2 linked regions of the Homo sapiens genome follow. The protein of the gene in region 1 purifies or fractionates together with the protein of each later gene. This does not show direct contact. Each region holds a gene or a part of one and is shown on either strand. Other genes may lie near its edges.

The links. The genes of interacting proteins can lie anywhere in the genome.
Region 2: the proteins of FFAR1 (region 1) and ACAD10 purify together in Homo sapiens (affinity purification with mass spectrometry; one large-scale study listed by BioGRID and IntAct). This does not show direct contact.

The regions. Positions count from the first base shown.
Region 1 is NC_000019.10:35,346,557-35,350,701, forward strand, and holds the start of FFAR1 (free fatty acid receptor 1), read left to right. Parts: upstream 1-1,345; 5' UTR 1,346-4,145. Other genes in the region: B-cell receptor CD22 isoform 1 precursor, read left to right, coding at 10-141.
Region 2 is NC_000012.12:111,748,553-111,752,052, forward strand, and holds part of ACAD10 (acyl-CoA dehydrogenase family member 10), read left to right. Parts: intron 1-620; coding exon 621-793; intron 794-3,500.

The sequences.
Region 1 (4,145 bases):
TTTTCTCAGGGCGACTATGAGAACGTCATTCCAGATTTTCCAGAAGATGAGGGGATTCATTACTCAGAGCTGATCCAGTTTGGGGTCGGGGAGCGGCCTCAGGCACAAGAAAATGTGGACTATGTGATCCTCAAACATTGACACTGGATGGGCTGCAGCAGAGGCACTGGGGGCAGCGGGGGCCAGGGAAGTCCCCGAGTTTCCCCAGACACCGCCACATGGCTTCCTCCTGCGCGCATGTGCGCACACACACACACACACGCACACACACACACACACACTCACTGCGGAGAACCTTGTGCCTGGCTCAGAGCCAGTCTTTTTGGTGAGGGTAACCCCAAACCTCCAAAACTCCTGCCCCTGTTCTCTTCCACTCTCCTTGCTACCCAGAAATCCATCTAAATACCTGCCCTGACATGCACACCTCCCCCTGCCCCCACCACGGCCACTGGCCATCTCCACCCCCAGCTGCTTGTGTCCCTCCTGGGATCTGCTCGTCATCATTTTTCCTTCCCTTCTCCATCTCTCTGGCCCTCTACCCCTGATCTGACATCCCCACTCACGAATATTATGCCCAGTTTCTGCCTCTGAGGGAAAGCCCAGAAAAGGACAGAAACGAAGTAGAAAGGGGCCCAGTCCTGGCCTGGCTTCTCCTTTGGAAGTGAGGCATTGCACGGGGAGACGTACGTATCAGCGGCCCCTTGACTCTGGGGACTCCGGGTTTGAGATGGACACACTGGTGTGGATTAACCTGCCAGGGAGACAGAGCTCACAATAAAAATGGCTCAGATGCCACTTCAAAGAACCAGTGAACTCTTTTCAGTCTGTGGAGTCAGAGTGGGGATGAGGAGAGGGGAAAGTCTTCATGGGGCCTGGGGGGAAGGAAATGGAGTCACAGTGGTTTACTGATCAAACCAGCAGATTAGAGAGTCTGGTGTCTTGTTAGGAAAAGCATACTGGCTTTGCAGACAGACAAACATGAGAACTTGAATCTTGATTCTTCGGCTTAACTAGCCCGGTGATCTTGGCAGGGCTCGCCAGCTTGCCTGAGTCTCGGCTTCTCCATCTGTAAAGTGGAGAGGGAAAGGCCACTGCCTACCACGCAGGTGGCCCACGATAGGAAGTGAGGCATCGTCTTCTATATGCTGGAGCCACATTGAGACCCAGCACAGAAGCCGAAAGTCCCCCAGAAAACCAACCTCCATCCTTTATTTGCATTTTTCGAAGAATGTGAAAAGGGGAAGCCGATTCAAAACAGCTCTTCCCAAAAGTGACGCTACCCAATTCTTGCACAACCCATAGCTGCCAGAGAAAGTCTTGAAGACCAGCCACCCTGAGAAACCTCACAGCTTTTCTGTCATTCGAGGTCCTCTGCACCCGTTCTCTAATTCTGTTCACTGATTCAGACTTTCCAGTTAGGTGCCCCAGCTCCCCTCTCCGCTTCTCGGGTTTGATCTTTCTCCACCCATTCACCTGCTTCTGCAAAGGGGCTAAAGCCCATTCTCCTTAGAGGGCAGGGGTGTAATTATCTGATCATCAGGGAGATTGGCTCCTGGCACGTGGCAGGTGTCCCCAAACTGCCACCTTCCTCTCCCACCTTCCTTTCCCTCCCATCTCTGCTCAGTACCCGGACGGTAACTCTAGGAATTATGGTTCAGGGAGGCCTTGATCGCCCCATCAATCCACTTTGTCCCTGGTTTGATTCTTGTGAGCACCATTAACTTTTCTGGAGGAAGGTGAGGCTTTAAGAACTGTTTAAAGCCCAGGCGTGGTGGATCACGCCTGTAATCACAGCACTCTGGGAGGCCAAGGTGGGCAGATCACCTGAGGTCAGGAGTTCAAGACCAGCCTAGCCAACATGGTAAAATCCTGTCTCTACCAAAAATACAAAAATTAGCTGAGCGTGGTGATTCACACCTGTAATCTCAGCTACTTGGGAGGCTGAGGCAGGAGAGTCGCTTGAACCTGGGAGGCGGAGGTAGCGGTGAGCCGAGATCACGCCACTGCACTCCAGCCTATGCAACAGAGTGAGACTCCGCCTCAAAACAACAACAACAAAAACTGTTTAAATGAGACAGGAGGGTGTTGGGGTGTCTGTGCCCAAAATGGGGTCTGGTGTCATTCAACTCTTTCTTCATTCATTCTGCACACAGATACTGAGCACCTGGAAATGCACCCAGTACAGAGCCAGTTGTTAGGACACCAAAAAGATAAGGCGTAGGACCAACCTTGGGGATCTCTAGTCGAGAGCCGCCAAGGGTTTTTAAGGCAAGATACCCTGGAGGGAGCTGAGGCAGTCCTAAGCCTGAAGGGCCTGGCTTAAGCTCCCTGGCAACCATCGAGCATCTTCCCCTTCCCACCCTGTCCCTCAGCACAGCTGCTGACATAAACCTACTACATGGCTGATTGACCATGAGATATGGCCATCAATAGACATTGCTGAGGCGTGAAGAGCAGGTGAAGAGCAGGTGGCCAGGAAGCTAGGGGGCCAGGACTCCAGACGCAGGCCGCCCTCCACAACCCCAGCTCTCACAGTCCTCCCAGGGTCCAGACAATGGATCGTGCATTTAGGTTCCCAAACACCTGCTGTGCAACGTGTAGTAGACAAAGCAGACCAAAGCCTTTGCCCTCAGGAGGCCGGCATTCTAGCTCAGGAGCCAGCCAAGACGATGTCGCACTGAAGAAAGACAACAAAAGTGAGATTCACAGGAGGGATGAGTGTGGCTGAGGCACCCGGGAAGGCCCTCGGAGAAGGTGACCTTGGGCAAAGATCCAGACGCCAGGTGGGTGGGGCCAAAGCAGAGAAGATCTGGAAAACCCAATGGCTCCCCAGGGCTTCGCTCTTGCTGCAGGAGGGGAAACCACACTGCTGTGGATTCTTCCTCCATTCTGTCCATTTCTCAGTTCCCAACAACACACTGAACAGTAGGAGGCCAGTTCTCCGCTCACAGCGGGCGCTGCACCCCAGGTGCTGCTCTCGAGAAAAAGGCGAGCATGGACCAATTTAGTGGCTCCGAGGTATGAAAAGCAGTGAGATGGTGTCTTTGAGGGAGTTAGTGATAGGCTGAGACCCCCTTGCTGTCCCCCCTGAAGCCTGGTGACCAGAGCTGCCAGGAGGCCACACAGAGAGAGGTTTATGATGGGGGACCTGGAATTCGGAAGGGGCAGAGTGGTCAGGTGACCCATACACGCCTGAGAAAACTGATGTGGAGAGCTGTGTTGTCATTCTGAGGCAGGAAATAGAGACAGACTGACAGACAGACAGAAAGACACGGGCACATTGAGAGACAGAGACAGAATCACAGAGCAGAGCTGGCTTCTCACCAGCAGGCGTGGGCACACCTGAGAGAGCATCCAGAGAGGTTAGAAATCTTCCTTAGGTCCTCCTGGGAGGCTCAGGTGACCCCAGTGGGAAACATGAAAGGCTGGGAGGACTTCCAGGGCTGAGAGAAGGAAGCTACGCAGCCGGCCGGTGCCACATTCCCTGTGCCTTGGGGAGTGTCCCCCAGTGTCCCCAGCCATGCACCCTGGGGGGAGTCGGCTTGGACATCTGTGCCACCCCTTGACAGGCAGAGTGGGGGCCACAACCTGGGCCCTCCAGTGCTGGTCAGCAGAGGCTGCCCCCGCCCCTTGCCTTCCTCCTCCCGCTCCTTCCTCCAGCCCTGGGAAGGTCGGAAGCCACCACCATGGGGCTAGTGCGGAAGCAGAGGGAGAACAGAGGGGCCCTCCTCGCAAAAACTAAAACAAGCCCACAGCCTGTGCAGAACCGCACCCGGGTGTGATCACTCCTTACCCCACACACCCACTGCCACTTGGAGATGGCTTCATGGCTGCAGTCACAGGGCACCCTGTGTTGTCAGGGGTGAGCCAGTGAGGCCCGGGACCTGCCCAGGGGTGCATCAAGGGTGGAGAAGACCTGGCCCCAGCGCAGGTGTGAACAGGCAGGAGGGCTGGGGAGGGAATAGCGCTGGGTTGTGGCCGAGCCCCCAAGCCCTGCTCTTGAGAGGCACTGGCTACACACTCGGCCCCTACCCAGACAGGACCCCAATTCCTCCCTGGCCCCTCTGTGTTCCTGCATCTTCCCAGCCCCTCACCTCCTCTGGCGTGGCCTCACCTCCAGCCGGGATGCCCCATTAGCTGCTCAC
Region 2 (3,500 bases), on another chromosome or scaffold:
GTTCAGGACTTGCCACATCCCACGTCTGAGGGTATGATGACATTTGGAGTCACATGCTCCTGCATTTCATTTCCATACATGAATATCAACCATGCAGGCGGATTTCAGACAGGCATTTATGGATTTTTTTCCCTCTTCTAAACTTAGAAAGTAATCAGGAGTCTGTGACACAGGAAGCCATACAGGGCAGACGCAGGAAGTGGACCCCAAACCTACTCTTCCAGGCCCCAGTGTGAACAGCTGACCTCTAGGCCACAGCCCTGGTTTGGTCCGCTCCCAGTTTGGTTCTCTGCTAATAGTGTTCACATTTTTACTTTCAGTGTTTTCATAGGATCACTACATTGTCACAAACCACTAGGAGCTTCAGCTTAAGGTGGCATTATTATGTTTTTATAAAAGGAATCACAGAATAGTCATTTGCCATTATAAATCAGTGATTCATTTTCTGTGTTTAACAGGCTGTTTCCTGCCGTCCTTTTCCCTTTAACCATGTCCCAGTAAGAAGGCTAAATAAAGGGCAGGGACATTGCCAGCAGATAACCCAGACTGAGGTGAGGAATAAACACATCCAAGGAAAATGACTATGGCTATTGCTCACAGTGATCGTTTGGGTCTTTCAGGTGGCCATGGTGAAGTCCGATTTGAGCACGTGCGTGTGCCCAAAGAGAACATGGTCCTGGGCCCTGGCCGAGGCTTTGAGATCGCCCAGGGCAGACTGGGCCCCGGCAGGATCCATCACTGCATGAGGCTGATCGGGTTCTCAGAGAGGGCCCTGGCACTCATGAAGGCCCGCGTGAGTGCTTTCCCCCGCACCCAGCACTGACTCAGAACCACCACCTTCTGCTTTGCTGTCGGACTTCAATTCCTACCTGTTTTCTGAGTGCAGTCCTAGCAGGTGAAGCAAGGTGATGTCCTTGCCAAGAAGTTGCATTCCTGTCTGCTTTGCATCTGCTACTTTGCTGCAGTTTGGATTCAGAGCAGAATGGACCCCACTCTGTCGAGGTGACCTGAAGGGAAACGCCAGGCTCTGTAGCAGCAGAGGCAAGGTTCCAAGGTGTAAAGGTCATGCTGCTAGCACATTATTAAAAATCAGTCTGGGTGCAATGGCTCACAGCTATAATCCCAGTACTTTGGGAGGTCTAGGTAGGAGGGTTGCTTGAAGCCAAGCATTTGAGACCAGCCTAGGCGAAAAAGAGAGACTCAGTCTCTACAAAAAAAAAAAAAATTTTTTTTTTTTTTTTGAGATGGAGTCTTGCTCTGTCACCAGGCTGGAGTTCAGTGGTGTGATCTCGGCTCACTGCAACCTCCACCTCCCGGGTTCAAGCAATTCTCCTGCCTTAGCCTCCCAAGTAGTTGGGACTACAGGCACGTGCCACCACGCCCAGCTAATTTTTGTATTTTTAGTAGAGACAGGGTTTCACCATGTTGGCCAGGAAGGTCTCGATCCCTTGACCTCGTGATCTGCCCGCCTCGGGCTCCCAAAATGCTGGGATTACAGGTGTGAGCCACCGTGCCCGGCAAAAAAAAGAAAAAGTTTTTTTTGTTTTTTTTTTTTTTGAGACGGAATCTCACTCTGTTGCCTAGGCTGGAGTGCAGTGGCGCGATCTTGGCTCACTGCAACCTCTGCCTACTGGGTTCACACCATTCTCTTGCCTCAGCCTCCCGAGTAGCTGGGACTACAGGCACCCGCCACCATGCCTGGCTAATTTTTTGTATTTTTAGTAGAGATGGGGTTTCACCATGTTAGCCAGGATGGTTTCGATCTCACCGTGTTAGCCAGGATGGTCTCGATCTCCTGACCTCATGATCCGCCCACCTCAGCCTCCCAATGTGCTGGGATTACCGGCGTGAGCCACCGTGCCTGGCCAAAAAGAAAAAGTTTTAAGTGCCAGGCATGGTAGCATGTGTCTCTAGTCCCAGCTACTCAGGAGGCTGAGGCAGAAGGATCGCTTGAGCCCAGGAGTTTAGGGCTGCAGTGAGCAGTGATCACACCACTGCACTCCAGCCTGGGTGACAGAGTGAGACCCTGTCTCTTTAAAAATAAATAAATAAATAAAAATCAGACACCAGGGAGATCCCATGTTGCTTGTTTTTGTCCCTAGGCTTCCATCATCTGGCCTGTACCACCCTCCTCCACAGCACATCCAGAAAACTTTATTCGGCCATAATCCTACCACCCCCAAAGTTTGGAAACCTAGGTTAAAAGACAGCTGCTTCCAGGACAGGAATTCAAATTGGTGATTATCAATTTCAGAAAGGTGACGCAAACCCTGAGACCAAAACCAGTGTCTCACAAGAACTGCTATTGAAAGAACAGAGGCAGTCTGAATTTTTTATTACCGAGCAAACCTGTGATTTACACCCTTTTGAGTTAAGACTGACCAGTTATTTTTTCTTTCTAAGTAAAACGCTCCTGTCTATGGACTCAGGTATGGTGCTTCAGCCCCACATGGAATTAAATTCAGCCTTCTGGCAGAATAATTGGACTGAATGAGTCAGACAGAAGTCTCCAGAAAGTGCATAGCATGAACATGGCACCTCCACTGAAGACTTGGTTGGAGTAATTAGGAATCTACAAAAGATTTGCTACAAGGAGGTTCACCACAGTGCTTATTGAAATAGCAAAATTCTGAACAACCTATAAGGCTAACAATGACTGTTGGCCAAATAAAACACAAGATGGCATACAGTGAGACTTTAAATGATGCTGTGGAAATCTATTCCTTAACATGGAGAAATTGCTCACTATATACACTTAAATTTAAAAAAAAAGACTGTGGCCAGGTGTGGTGACACTCCCAGCACTCTGAGAGGCCGAGGCAGGCAGATTGCTTGAGCCCAGGAATTTGAAACTAGCCTGGGCAATACGGCAAAACCTCATCTCTATAAAAAATAAGGCTGGGCGCGGTGGCTAACGCCTGTAATCTCAGCACTTTGGGAGGCTGAGGTGGGCGGATCACTTCAGGTTAGGAGTTTAAGACCAGCCTCGCCAACATGGTGATACCCCGTCTCTACTAAAAATACAGAAGTTAGCTGGGCATGGTGGCACATGCCTGTAATCCCAGCTACTTGGGAGGCTGAGGCAGGAGGATCACTTGAATCCAGGAGGCGGAGGTTGCACTGAGCTGAGATTGCACCACTGCACTCTAGCCGGAGTGACAAAGCAAGACTCCATCTCAAAAAAAAAAATTAAAATTAAAAAATTAAAAATAGTAGCCAGGTGGGGCTGGGTGTGGTGGCTCATACCTGTAATTCCAGCACTTTGGGAGGCCGAGGTGGGCAGATCACCTGAGGTCGGGAGTTCGAGTCCAGCCTGACCAACATAGAGAAACCCTGTCTCTACTAAAAATATAAAATTAGTTGGACGTGGTGGCGCATGCCTGTAATCCCAGCTACTTGGGAGGCTGAGGCAGGAGAATCGCCTGAACCCGGGAGGTGGAGGTTGCGGTGAGCCGAGATCGCACCATTGCACTCCAGCCTGGGCAACAAGAGCGATACTC